4 linked regions of the Homo sapiens genome follow. The protein of the gene in region 4 interacts with the protein of the main gene of each other region in a biochemical or structural test. Each region holds a gene or a part of one and is shown on either strand. Other genes may lie near its edges.

Region 1 (3,500 bases), on a different chromosome or scaffold from region 4:
CTTACAGAAGAAACCTATTAAAATATCACATCACTATATAAGAGGACAGATATTTTAATTTGCTTGGCTATAGTAATCACTTTACTATGTATATTTATATCAAAGCACCATGTTGTACACCTAAAATATGTAAAATTTGAAAAAAAGTTGAAAAATATCAAAATAATTATATCAGTCAGGCAATATTTTTAGTGAAAAGACATTGGCTTTTTATTTGGCACAAAGTGAACCTCAACTCAAGCAGTTATTTCATGCTTATTTTCTAAGCAGATAAGCTTCAAACATATTAAAGTATCTAGTTACGTAGATTCTTTACTCTTATTTCTTTTACCAACTGCTCTGTTCCTTGAGAAAAATATGGAAATTTTAAAATAAAAGTTTAAGTTGTTAGATCTCAACTAGGAAATCCACAAAGTAAACCTGTTTTCTATGTGAAATAACAGCAATGAATCTCCCCCTTCAAGTTAAGATATAAAAATTAAGCTAAAAATATCTGAAGAAGGGAAAGGCGTTTAGATTCATTTATTAATTTGCAGAATGCTGTGCCAGCATTATTCCGAGAAAAAATAAATGGTTAGAAGAGAGAGAATTAATGCACTAACATACAGGATAAAATATTCTTTTGAAAGTACACTATCCATTTGCAGTTTGAGAGTGATTAAATGAATTCATCTGATACTCTGAACGTCATATTTTATAGCTCTGATTGCAAGTAAGACATTTAGTAGATTATAGATAAATCTGTCATTTGTAATTGACTGCAGATCTTCATGCCTTCAAGTCATTTTCTCATGGGCACACCAAAATGAAAGGGCAGGTGGAAAGTATCTAAAAGCTTCAATTTTGCCTGTGTAAACTTCAACCTCTATGACTTACATTTTAAAGACCCAACAGCACAAGGGATGCAACAAATTAGAATTTAAATGTAATTCGTGGTTGAAATGCCACATGAATATGCTCTGGCTCCCAAATGTCAGTTGCTGAACCACAAACCGATTCTTAATGATCCCTTGGAAGCTGTCACTAATTTTTGTGAACCACAATGATGGCTTCTAAAGGAGGACTACAAACCCCTGGAGACCAATAACTGGGGATAACTTGGAAAGCTTTTGGCTCTCTAAAACACCCAAGGATAAGAAAATGCTTCCTAGGAAGGGATTTAAAGTGAAAAAGTAGAAATATACTGAGTGCTTGAGAGATAAGATAAAACAATTGCAATCCCTACATTTAAATCCCATACCATAAATAGAACTTCTCAAGGCACCAAAGAAATGAGAAATAACAAGGAAATGTATGTTTTAAAGAACCGAATGAAATAAGCATGTGATCTTGAGGCCAGCATTTTTAAAAATGTGAGATCAGCTTTGAATGGAAACTAGGTCTCTGATCTAAAAAACAATGGGCAGAAAGATTTACTCTGCTTCTGTTTAGCATTTTTATCAGTATAAATTTAGGCAGAAGCCTGAGTCTTAAAAGTTTAGATTCTAAGGCAGGGTTCCCTAAATAAAACACCTTCCGTGCTCAGTGTGAAAGAGTCCATTGGCCTGTTGCCAAACCAGAATCTAAATGCCTAGTCATTCAAATTAAATTTAAAAACAGAAGCAAAACAAAAATTAGCACTCCACAAAACATATTTTAAGGCTGGATCTGGCTCCAGACTAAGAGTTAATGATGCTTGAATTAAAGATAGGAAAATGGAAGAAGGTGGAAATGCCAAGAAGTGGATGTTGTTATTGATAACTTTTTTGTATAACCAATATAAATGTAATTATCTGCCTAAAAAAGAAAAAGAAGACCCTTTATCCCTTTAAATCATTTTCAGAAATGTCTGCATAATGAGTTGAGTTTCATTCCCTCTAATGCCTAAATGACACCTTGTAATAAATTACCAGCTTTGTTAAATAAGGTTTTAACTCCTCTGGGCCCCTCAGACACCGTTGATATACTAACCAGTACCTTATTGTCTGAAGAGAGCTAATAGAAATAGACTGTCAGAGAGTAGACCAAACAGAAATGAATAATTGTAAACAGAAGCAGAGAGTATTAATGTGGTTTCTGTGATCTAGGAAATGTTGCAAGAGCCTTCTTTCTCCCTTCCTTACTGGAATTTTGCAACGGGGAAAAATGTCTGTGATATCTGCACGGATGACTTGATGGGATCCAGAAGCAACTTTGATTCCACTCTAATAAGCCCAAACTCTGTCTTTTCTCAATGGCGAGTGGTCTGTGACTCCTTGGAAGATTATGATACCCTGGGAACACTTTGTAACAGTAAGTTCCAAATGATAGCTTGGAGTCAGAATTTCTTTTTAGATAAAGAGATTAAATATGTTGCCTGAAAGGCCCTTCATTCTACTAGAGAATTCAGACTAAAATCTACTTTTATTATAGAGTAACAGTGTACCAGGCATTCATTAAACACCTAGAATGTTCAAGGTACTCTAGAAGTTGCTCCAGGGGAAACAGAAAGTGCCTACACATTTTTACACTGCCTTTCTTGAGTAGTTTGGTCAATATCTTGCTAACTTTCTTATTTTGGAAATGTCTAGTTGTATAAACTAATCCTCTTAGTTTTCTTAGCACTACTTAGAAGTCATGTGTCTTGTGTTGGAATTTCACAGAAAATGTTTCCTAAGAAAATGTGAAAAATAGGCAAAAAGTTGGAAATGCCCTGGGAAGAAAAAAAAGAAAAGAAGCAAACCAAATGTATGCTTGCAGTTATAAAGTTAGAAAACAAAAGCTGATATGGGGGATAGTTTTCAGAAAAGGAGTATATTGTACTGATGTCTGCCCCCTAGCTGCTTTCCAGCTCTTCCAAAGTGAACACAGTAAGAGTACGCCTAATCAGTTGTCCCAGCATCCTTTCTCCAGTGATCTGAATGCCACCACTGTCACAGGTCAAGTTTCTGCCACATGTAGATCTCTTCCTGAGCTTTCTGTTCTCCTCCTTGGATCATATTATTATTTGTGCCTGTGGTAGTAACACAAGGTTTAATTATTAGACACCCCCTACCTCATCTTATTTTTCTTCTTCAGGCATGTATGGCTCTTTTGATTGTTCTTCCATATAAAAATAAGAGTTATGTGAATTTGTTTTCTTATTATAATCACCACATACTTATTCTACATGTATTATTTTATGCATCAAGTATTATTTTATGAACTTAAATAAGAAATACTCTAAATAAATCAGCAGGAATTAGATACATATTTTCACCATTAGATTATTTAGCAATGTATAGGAATAAGAGAAGTGATAATATATGAAAATTTCCTCTGTAGAAGTTTAAAACTTAGAATAAATTTGTATTTGTTTGGTATGCTGAATGCATGATCCCACCTTGTGGCAGAGAACTGAAATTGAGGATCAGGATGTCTGCAGATGCCAAAATGTTTATACTCTTTGTGACCAGGCCATTGTATTTTGGCCTGAGAGTTTTCTAGACATTTCCCAATCACCCTGATGATTGGATACCAAAATAAAACACAGTTTAAATGAG
Region 2 (3,500 bases), on a different chromosome or scaffold from region 4:
GCACACACAGCGCACAGCCGCAGTCTGCTTCATGGGCTGACAGAATCAATGCTTGTGTCTGTCTGCTGGAAGACAGGGACCAGGATCCACTCATCAGAGGGGAGTCCACAGTCCCCACAGAGGGCCGGCATGTGTGGGAGGTTAGGAAATGTCAGCACTGCCCTGAAACAAATCAGGCGTGGCCCTTGCCGAGCACCTGGCACATAGTAGGTGCTAAATAAATATTTGTTGAATGGATGAATTGTTAGGTAAGTAGAAATAGATAGATAGGTAGGTAGGTAGGTAGGTAGGTAGGTAGGTAGGTAGATAGATAGAGACAGATAAATAAATGGGTTGACAGATGTGTGGATTGGATGAGTGGATGGGTGAGTTGGTGGATAGATGGATTGGATTGTATAGATGAATTGAATGGATGGTTGAATGGATGGATAGATGGATGGATGGTTGGAATAGATGGATGGACGGATGGATGGATGGATGGATGGATGGATGGATGGATGGATGGACGGACAGACGGACGGACGGTTGGATGGATGGATGGATGGATGGATGAATGGATAGTTGGAATAAATGGATGGATGGATGAATGGATGGATGGATGGGTGGATGGACGGACGGATGGATGGACAGATGGAATGGATGGATGGATGGTTGGAATGGATGGATGGATGGAATGGATGGATGGATGGAATGGATGGATGGATTGTTGAATGGATGGTTGGATGGATGGATGGATGGATGGTTGGAATAGATGGATGGATGGATGGGTGGATGGATGGATGGATGGATGGATGGATGGATGGTTGGAATAGATGGATGGATGGATGGGTGGATGGATGGATGGATGGATGGATGGATAGATGGATAGATGGAAAGGATGGATGGATGGATGGATGGATGGATGGATGGATGGATGGTTGAATGGATGGTTGAATGGATGGTTGGATGGATGGATGGATGGATGGATGGACGGATGGATGGATGTTTGGAATAGATGGATGGATGGATGGATGGATGGATGGATGGATGGATGGAATGGATGGATGGATGGATGGATGGTTGAATGGATGGTTGGATGGATGGATGGATGGATGGATGGATGGATGGATGGATGGTTGAATGGATGGTTGAATGGATGGATGGATGGATGGATGGATGGATGGATGGATGGATGGACGGACGGATGGATGGATGGATGTTTGGAATAGATGGATGGATGGATGATGGATGGATGGAATGGATGGATGTTTGGAATAGATGGATGGATGGATGGAATGGATGGATGGATGGTTGGAATGAATGGATGGATGGATGGTTGGAATGGATGGATGGATGGATGGTTGGAATGGATGGATGGATGGAATGGAAGGAGGGATGGATGGATGGATGGTTGAATGGATGGATAGATGGATGGATGGTTGAATGGGTGGAATGAAAGGATGGATGGTTGTAATAGATGGATGGATGGATGGTTGGAATAGATGGATGGATGGATGGATGGTTGGAATAGACGGATGGATGGATGGTTGGAATAGATGGATGGATGGATGGTTGGAATGGATGAATGGATGGATGGATAGATGATTGGAATAGATGGATGGATGGACGGTTGAATGGATGGATGGATGGATGGATGGATAGTTGAATGGATGGAATGGATGGATGGATGGTTGGAATAGATGAATGGATAGATGGTTGGAAAAGATGGATGGATGGATGGATGGATGGATGGATGGATGGATGGATGGAATGGATGGATGGTTGGAATAGATGGAATGGATGGATGGATGGATGGATGGATGGAATGGATGGATGGTTGGAATAGATGGAATGGATAGATGGATGGATGGATGGATGGTTTGATGGTTGAATGGATGGATGGATGGAATGGATGGATGAATGGAATTGATGGATGGATGGGATGGATGGATGGATTGATGGATAGTTGGAATAGATGGAATGGATGGATGGATGGATGGTCGAATGGATAGTTGAATGGATGGATGCATGGATGGATGGATGGATGGAATGGATGGATGGATGGATGGATGGATGGATGGATGGATGGATGGCTGAATGGATGGTTGAATGGATGGTTGAATGGATGGATGGATGGATGGGTGGATGGATGGATGAATGGATGGATGGATGGATGGAATGGATGGATGGATGGTTGGATGGATGGTTGAATGGATGGATAGGTGGATTAATTGGATGAACTGGATGGATGAATGGATAGATGGATGGACGGAGGCCATTTGAGGGCAGGGCTGAGCCTGGATCATTCATACACAGGCCCTGCACTTAGTAGTTGTTTGGTCATTGGGACCACTGTAGAAAGGAGCACAGCAGAGGCCCAGTGGTGAGCAGGTGCCCGCACCCACACTAAGAAGAAGGCTGAGTCCACAAATCTCTCCCACCCAACAGCTTGGAGTGGAGTAACAATTTGCAGCCACTCCTCAGAGCAGGAGAAAATTACATCTCATACAGTGGCTCCACAAGGAGGCAATCGTGTCCGACAAGAGCCTTCTGGGATGGCAGCTTGACTCCCAACACCAAGAGGGTAGAGAGTGGAAGGTAAAGGTCAGTGATAAAAATTCCAAGGCACCCCTCCTGGTTCTCATGCTGATGCAGGGCCACAGAGCTGCACCCCCCTTTCCTTGGTAGACGTGCTCCCACAGGGCTGAAGAAGTGCCCATTCATTCATTCATTACTTCATTCATTCAACAAATAACTACTGAGCACCTACCATGTGCCAGGCGCTGGCTGACACCAGCTATGAGCAGATATGTGGTCTCTGCCCACGTGGAGCTCATAGGGAATCCCACACATCGTGGCCTCACAAACTGTGCTTAGGGCTTGACGAACAACCTGGGGTATTGACATCTGAGAATGGGACCCCGCTTTCTCCCTCCCAGTCACTTACAACACATTCCAGTCAGCTTTCTCCCTCTTCTCCGCCCAAACTGCCCTTCCCAGGGTCACCCACAATGATCTGGCCACCATCACTTGTGGTACCTGCTATGTGGCGGGCACAGTCCACACTCTCTCCCTCAGGCAGCCTCACCCCTGCCTGCAGCCCCAGCTCCCTCCAAATACTGCAGACCCCAAATCTCCACTTGGTCCTGCCTCCCCCACTGACCTCCAGCCTTACACCTCCAACTGCCCACGTGACGGTTCCATTATAGGTGTCTCATCCCCACACACATCTCCTTAGACCTCTCCTCCCCAAGTCTTCCCCAGCGTGGGGAGCAGCCCCTGAACTCACCAGAGTCACAGTGGCCATGACGCCTCTCTCTCCCTCACCATCCCCCCACCAAGTCCACTGGGTCACCAGGCTTCATCAGCTCTATCTCTAATATGCACCTGGAATCTCCACTTCTCCCCTCTGTTCTGCAAATCCCTAAGGAGCTCAGGGCCCCGGTGGGTGTAGGGCAGGTGGCCCCACCCTGGCTGCTCATAGGGGACAACACGTCTGGCTGAAGGACCTGCAGGAGCCA
Region 3 (2,810 bases), on a different chromosome or scaffold from region 4:
TGGGGAGAGATAGTTTCCTAAAATCACAGTAACTTTTAATAATTGTAATGCATTTTGAAAACAGAGAATCATATTTTTATAATGGTGAGAACTATGCAATAACTCTTTAGGAATGAAAACTTCCTTTAAGAAGTTTGCCACCGTTAGAGATGAGGAGATAGTGAGACAGAGAGATGTTCACAGAGACTCAGCAAATCTTAGACAATAATGCTGCAATTTTCTGAAAGAAGATGCTTGCAGTGTCAGGTATGGTTTGGGGGTTGGAAAAGTTACTTTTCTGATTTCTTGGAACCATTTAAAACTCCTTTATATCATTCTGTCTCTTTCCAAATTGAGGGTCAACTACTAGTTTAGAGATATAAGGTATTTTATCTTGTTTTCAAGTTCTACTTCAGAAGAAAACCTATTTCATGTTTCTTCTCCCATTACCTACTTAAGATACTTAAGGTATTTAAGTATGCATTTGAGGAAATATTTTCCTGTGCTAAAATAAAGGTTTGCAAATGTTGGTGTGAGAGGTTTTAACTTTGACCAGTGAGAATAAAATGTATGATTGTGTGTGTGAATTTCTCCTAACATATTAACCAACTCCTTTCTATATGCAACAAGGTAACCTGGTGCCCCAAATCAATACTTGTAAGTACTATTCAGAGTTAAACTTCCAAAGTCAAAAAATATATATACACAAAAAAAGGGGAAAAGCCACATTTTTTTGAACAGAGGTAGAAGAGAAAGAGAAAAAAAGTGTCTCAGCCCTTTAGAGGAAAAGAGAGCAACTCATTCTGATGAGTTACACAGTTTTAGCAAATTGTTCTTATCAATATAATAGACATGAGGATTGTTCCTGGTAGCCTTCAAGAGCTCCTAGACAGATATAAATTTAAGTAGACATTACTTTATTTTGCTGTTAATCCAAGTAGACATTGCGACTTGATTCTGAATAGGCATTTTATTTTCAAAATTTTTCTACTGAATTTCTCTTGCTCTGTATGCCTACTTATTGTGCACATGGGTTGTTTTTCCAAACTGCTTCTTGATTCTTAAGTGAGAATTCAGACATGATACTCAAACGAGAGCATATTAGACATCTGTTTTAAGATTTATTTTCTGTTGCAGTCATCTTGGCAAACAAAATCCAGATACAGTTAAGTTCAGGCTCTCTTCCAAACCCTGCTAAGCAGCTGCTTTGAAAATGTTTTCAATACTATGGATCTTAATATCCACTGAGATGACAAATGTAGGAAAGGAAGATTCATTCTGTTAAATGTTTTTTCTCTTTTGCAATGTCCAAGCTCTACTTATTTATTAATAGCCTCCCTCTGTACCCATAACATCATTTATTTGGTGAATTCACTGTTATTAATACTAGTATTTTATCACAGTAAAGAAAAGGTTTCTGAAAACCCACAACCTCACTATCCTAAAGCAACTACTGTGTTTCTATTTTGGTATATCATCTTCCAGGCTTCCTCCACATGCAAATGCAGCATACATATTATAATAGTGTGTTTTTCTTTTCTCTTTGAATTATATTCCATGCATGTTTCCATGTTTCTATGTAGTATTTCTAATTATCAATGAACGATTGTGTAATATGCCATTTTAGTGATGTTCCATAATTTATCATGCCATTCCTTATTGCTGGCAAGATACTAAGTTTTATGGATGATTTTGTATGTTTTTTTCCTATTGCTGGTTACACTGCTATATTATTTGTTATATGCCAATAGAGAGGAACTTTACTATTGAACAGGTATCTCCTTGTGGATGAGAGAGAGGAGGCAGAAATGTGTAAATGAATGGAACTCTCCATATTGTTGTGTGGGTCTTCCCTTCACTCTTGTGGATATAAGACCCAGGGTGGGAAACAAAACGATGCTTCTTCCAAAAGATCCTCCCATCAGGACCAGAACTAGTATGTTTAGGAGTAAGATGGAACATTTCCCCAGCTAAGATACCAGTGGTGTGTTTCTCACAATTAGATTACAGTGGTGTCAGTCTTCAAGAGCATCGTGTTCAACAAGCAAAATGATAAATAGATGTAAACAATAATAATGACTTTGTAATATGCCAAAAGCATTTTCTTAAAGTACCTCATCATATATTTTATAATAGATGTATTTCATATGTATATGTATTGTCGCCTATCAGTGACTTACAAATGAACTGGAATTTCAGGAATCTGATAGACTCTGCCCTTGAGTTTTCTGTGTTTCAGTTTCCTACTGGGAAAAACTAAACTGAGGATGGAAATGGGGACAAATGCTTGGTTTGCCCAAATATCTTAATAAAAGACTAGATTCCATTCAACCTCTTGTCCAGTTCACATAAAATCATGTAGACACCACTGAGTCTGAGACCATGACTTTGATTTCTCATGACCTACCGCAGGGTCCTCACTCTATGGGCACCCAACCAAAAGAAATGTGTACATGATGCTGCCCAGATACACAAACAGGCAGGCACTGATGTTAGATAGCCAGTCTTTGGCAAGTTGTTCCTGGGACTGACCCTTACTAGGGATTCTTTTTTTATTTTTCCCTTTATTCCTTCCCTGACCCCAGATTACAGCCTGCAGACTTGGTATTCTCGGTGATAGTACAAAGCTTTGCATGCTTTATCCCTAATAAGGTACAGAGTTACAAAATGAACCGATTACAAAACAGTACATAAAGCTATTAAAAATCTCCTGTGCTGCTCTTTGACAAATCTATCTTTAGAAAGTTGAACATAAAAGATAATTTTGCAATTAGTCACTTTCTTATTTTTCATGGTAATGAACTATTGTACATAAGACAACTCTTCAGTAG
Region 4 (3,500 bases):
CTTCTCTTTGGTCAAAATATTTCCTGGGTACCTACTATATACCCTCAGGCTGTTCTCATCACTCCTCACCTTCTTAATAAAATCCAATTTTACCAGACGTCCATTGCAAGGCCTTGTTAAATTAATTTATGCTAATGCAATAGGTACAACAAAACTCTTAAAGCAAGGGGATAAAACTTAAAAATATAGAATTTCAGCTTTTAAATGGAGGAGGGGGTTTCACTGTAAAATAAGAAGTCTTTTTAGAGCTCTTAAAGTCATATAAGAACCACCTTCTCAGCCTATGTAGGAAGCTGGTGCTACAAGTTTTCAGTGATTGCTCAAACTTACACTGGTTCTTATAAAAGACAACTCTGAATCAGGAGTGCTTGTATATACAGCTTTGATAAAAATAGCTTAACTGTTTATAAATAACCTATCACATTTCAAAATATGTCTTAAATATTTAGCTAGAAATGATGCATACTTTCATTAAGAGTGAGACACAGACTAAGTCAAAAGCAAGAATAGATGCTGAACTTTCAGGGCTCAAGGAATACCTGTGAAGGGCTTGCACATCAACATTTATACCCTAACTGAGTAGATCTTTTGGCTTCTTTTTATTCATGCAACAAGACTTCTGTGGCAAGATGGTTTGATTTCTTGTTCTTACCTTAAAAGGGAAAGAAAGAAGAAGAGAAAACTGCCTTATTCTTATTACAAAGTTATACTGATGGACTAAAAGCACTCCAGAGATAAATAATAGGTTAAGGAGACAAGCATATGTACTCAAAAGTATTTACAAAGTAGGCAAAGCTAGTGGGGAAAAAAAGGCCACAAAAATAATCCTTAAGACAAGATATGCTTCTGAAAACAATTAAAAAGCAAAGTTGAGGAGTGTTTGAAATAAAAATTTTTCAAGTATGCTTATATTTCTTAATATCTTTCTAAAATTCACTTCTTAGCTGCTTAATTATATAATTTGTAGGATGTTAGTAAAGCATTTCAGTAGTACAAATGAGGAACTGTGACACTGCCCAGATCTCTCATAGTGGCTCTGTGTCCTGGTGGGAAAGACAGTAGAGCCAAACCAACAGACCTGTTGACTCTGTTGAGCCTTAAAGAGAATCTGAGTCCTTGTCTAAACTGAAGATAAAGCATGAAGGCAAAATTTCTGGAATTGAAAACTGTGGAGTCTGCTTTTGATACATTGTTAACTGTGTGGGAGAGGGCAGAGCAGGGACTGGAAGAGGATAACCTTGATGGTTTTGCAGGGCCTGGTGTGTGGTGCACCAGCCAGCCGTTTTTCTCTCAACTCTTCACCACCACCGTGAGAGCCTAATGGCCCACACACATTAGTACCACAGCCCTCCTGTGGCAACTGAATCGCAGACACAGTGCCAAAACAGAGATAATGGGCCTCTAAAGGTCTGGCCTAGAATCTCCAACCCTATTAAATAAAAGCAAATAGAACAAAAGCCACGAAGAAGTCTACAGACTGATGATCTGGCCTAGAAACTGGGTGAACCATTATTAAAACATAAACATGTAAGTTTTAATATTAAAAAAGAAATTAGAGAAGGGTATGTAGACAACCAAATCACCAAGTTTTCCTTTCAAAGGAAAATTATATGCATTAACAAATCATCATGGGACCAGTTATAAAGAAATTACAAACATACTGAAAATAGGGTTTATATTGCACGATGCTGTCAAAGTTTACCTTCCTTTCATGTTTTCTCAAGAAACGTAGTAGACTATAATTCATAAAATAAATGCTTAATAAACATATTAGTTGAGTGGCTAAGCCAATGATCAAATGATCCCTTAAGTCTCCAAATCTGCAGTAGAAATTATGAATCTGAAGGTATAATTCAAGGGTGCTTAAGATTTCACTTCCTTTATTTTTCTGTAACTCAATTTAGTATCTTTTTGAGTTTCCCTTCTGCTTGGATTGTGAAAATGTAATGTCAAACAATTGAGGGTGGCCTTCTCTGCCTCTTCAGTGTGACTCCTAGGTCGTCTGACACTCTTTAACCTTATCTCAGTCTCCATCTATCACACTGCACAGTGATTTTTTTTCTCTGTACTTTACCCAAGAAGCAAGGCAAAAAGGCCTTGGCAGTTCAATCCTGTAAATTAAGGGTTCTGTCATCTGCCCTGGTGATCCGCTCAGAGGGGCAGGAGCCAGGGTTTCCTTATGTAGGGTCCTATAAAGTCTAATTACAACTTTCTTCTTTTTGCTTCTCCATCATCCTAACCTGGAGAATCTTCAGAAGATTGGGAAAAAAGCAGCATTGTGTTTACTTAGAGGAAGCATAGTTTCTCCAAGTATTGTCTACGCCATGATGTTCAAAAGACTGTTTTGAAACTCAAAAGCCAAGAATTGATTTGTTTTTTGTTTTCTGTATCTATCTTATAAGTATGTGTGCCTATTTGATTGTATCCTGAATAGATTTTTCTTAATATAAAATTATTCACTTATAATAAGGGCTTATTCAATGCATAACGATAGTGCCCTCCAGAAAAATTTCACCAGTTTTTGTTAAGTTATTAGCAGTCTGAGTCCAATTTTCCTACATCCTTGTCTGTACACCAAATTTTAAAATATATATTTATCATTTTTAAGTTAAAAATGAAATATTGACCAGGCACGGTGGCTTACGCCTGTAATCCCAGCACTTTGGGAGGCCGAGGTGGGCGGATCACAAGGTCAGGAGATCAAGACCATCCTGGCTAACATGGTGAAACCCTGTCTTTACTAAAAATAGAAAAAAATTAGCTGGGCGTGGTGGCAGGCACCTGTAGTCCCAGCTACTCGGGAGGCTGAGGCAGGAGAATGGCATGAACCCGGGAGGCGGAGCTTGCAGTGAGCCAAGATCGCGCCATTGCACTCTAGCCTGGGCAACAGAGCAAGACTCCGTCTCAAAAAAAAATATATCTGTATATTTATTTTTATGTCGGTCTATACTTCTTTGATTACTAGGGAGTTTGAATATCTTTTCTGAGGTCTATTGTCCATTTATATTTTTTATTTTTTGTCCATGCATGTCAACTGCTCATTCTGCTTAGATCTTTATTGACTTGTTAGAAGAATGAAGGGCAGGCTGGGTGTGGTGGCTCATGCCTGTACTCCCAGCAGCTTGAGAGGCTGAGGGAGGTGGATCGCTTGAGGTCAGGAGTTCAAGACCAGCCTGGCCAACATAGTGAAACGCCATCTCTACTAAAAATATAAAATTAGCCGGGCGTGGTGTTGCACACCTTTAATCCCAGCTACTCGAGAGGCTGAGGCAGGAGAATCTCTTGAACCCAGGAGGCGGAGGTGGTGGTGAGCCCAGATCAGGCCACTGCACACCAGCCTGGCCAACAAGAGTGAAACTCTGTCTCAAAAAAACAAAAAAGGGCAAATAAACCAGAAAAAAAACCCTTTTGCACTAAGTATATGACAGTCACATACTGAAACTGTTTTTCTGGTTTGCCTTTTTTTTTTTTTTTTTTTTTTTTTACAGTGTTTGAGACAT

Evidence for each region.
Region 1: the proteins of LIN7A (region 4) and TYRP1 interact in a test that uses a peptide from one of them, tested with the Homo sapiens proteins (one large-scale study listed by IntAct).
Region 2: the proteins of LIN7A (region 4) and SLC22A12 interact in a test that uses a peptide from one of them, tested with the Homo sapiens proteins (one large-scale study listed by IntAct).
Region 3: the proteins of LIN7A (region 4) and TMEM215 interact in a test that uses a peptide from one of them, tested with the Homo sapiens proteins (one large-scale study listed by IntAct).

Annotation. Positions count from the first base shown.
Region 1 is NC_000009.12:12,696,385-12,699,884, forward strand, and holds part of TYRP1 (5,6-dihydroxyindole-2-carboxylic acid oxidase precursor), read left to right. Parts: intron 1-2,066; coding exon 2,067-2,271; intron 2,272-3,500. UniProt on the Homo sapiens protein: Plays a role in melanin biosynthesis. Catalyzes the oxidation of 5,6-dihydroxyindole-2-carboxylic acid (DHICA) into indole-5,6-quinone-2-carboxylic acid in the presence of bound Cu(2+) ions, but not in the presence of Zn(2+).
Region 2 is NC_000011.10:64,594,220-64,597,719, forward strand, and holds part of SLC22A12 (solute carrier family 22 member 12), read left to right. Parts: intron 1-3,500. UniProt on the Homo sapiens protein: Electroneutral antiporter that translocates urate across the apical membrane of proximal tubular cells in exchange for monovalent organic or inorganic anions. Involved in renal reabsorption of urate and helps maintaining blood levels of uric acid.
Region 3 is NC_000009.12:32,786,892-32,789,701, forward strand, and holds the end of TMEM215 (transmembrane protein 215), read left to right. Parts: 3' UTR 1-2,310; downstream 2,311-2,810.
Region 4 is NC_000012.12:80,812,435-80,815,934, reverse strand, and holds part of LIN7A (protein lin-7 homolog A), read left to right. Parts: intron 1-3,500. UniProt on the Homo sapiens protein: Plays a role in establishing and maintaining the asymmetric distribution of channels and receptors at the plasma membrane of polarized cells.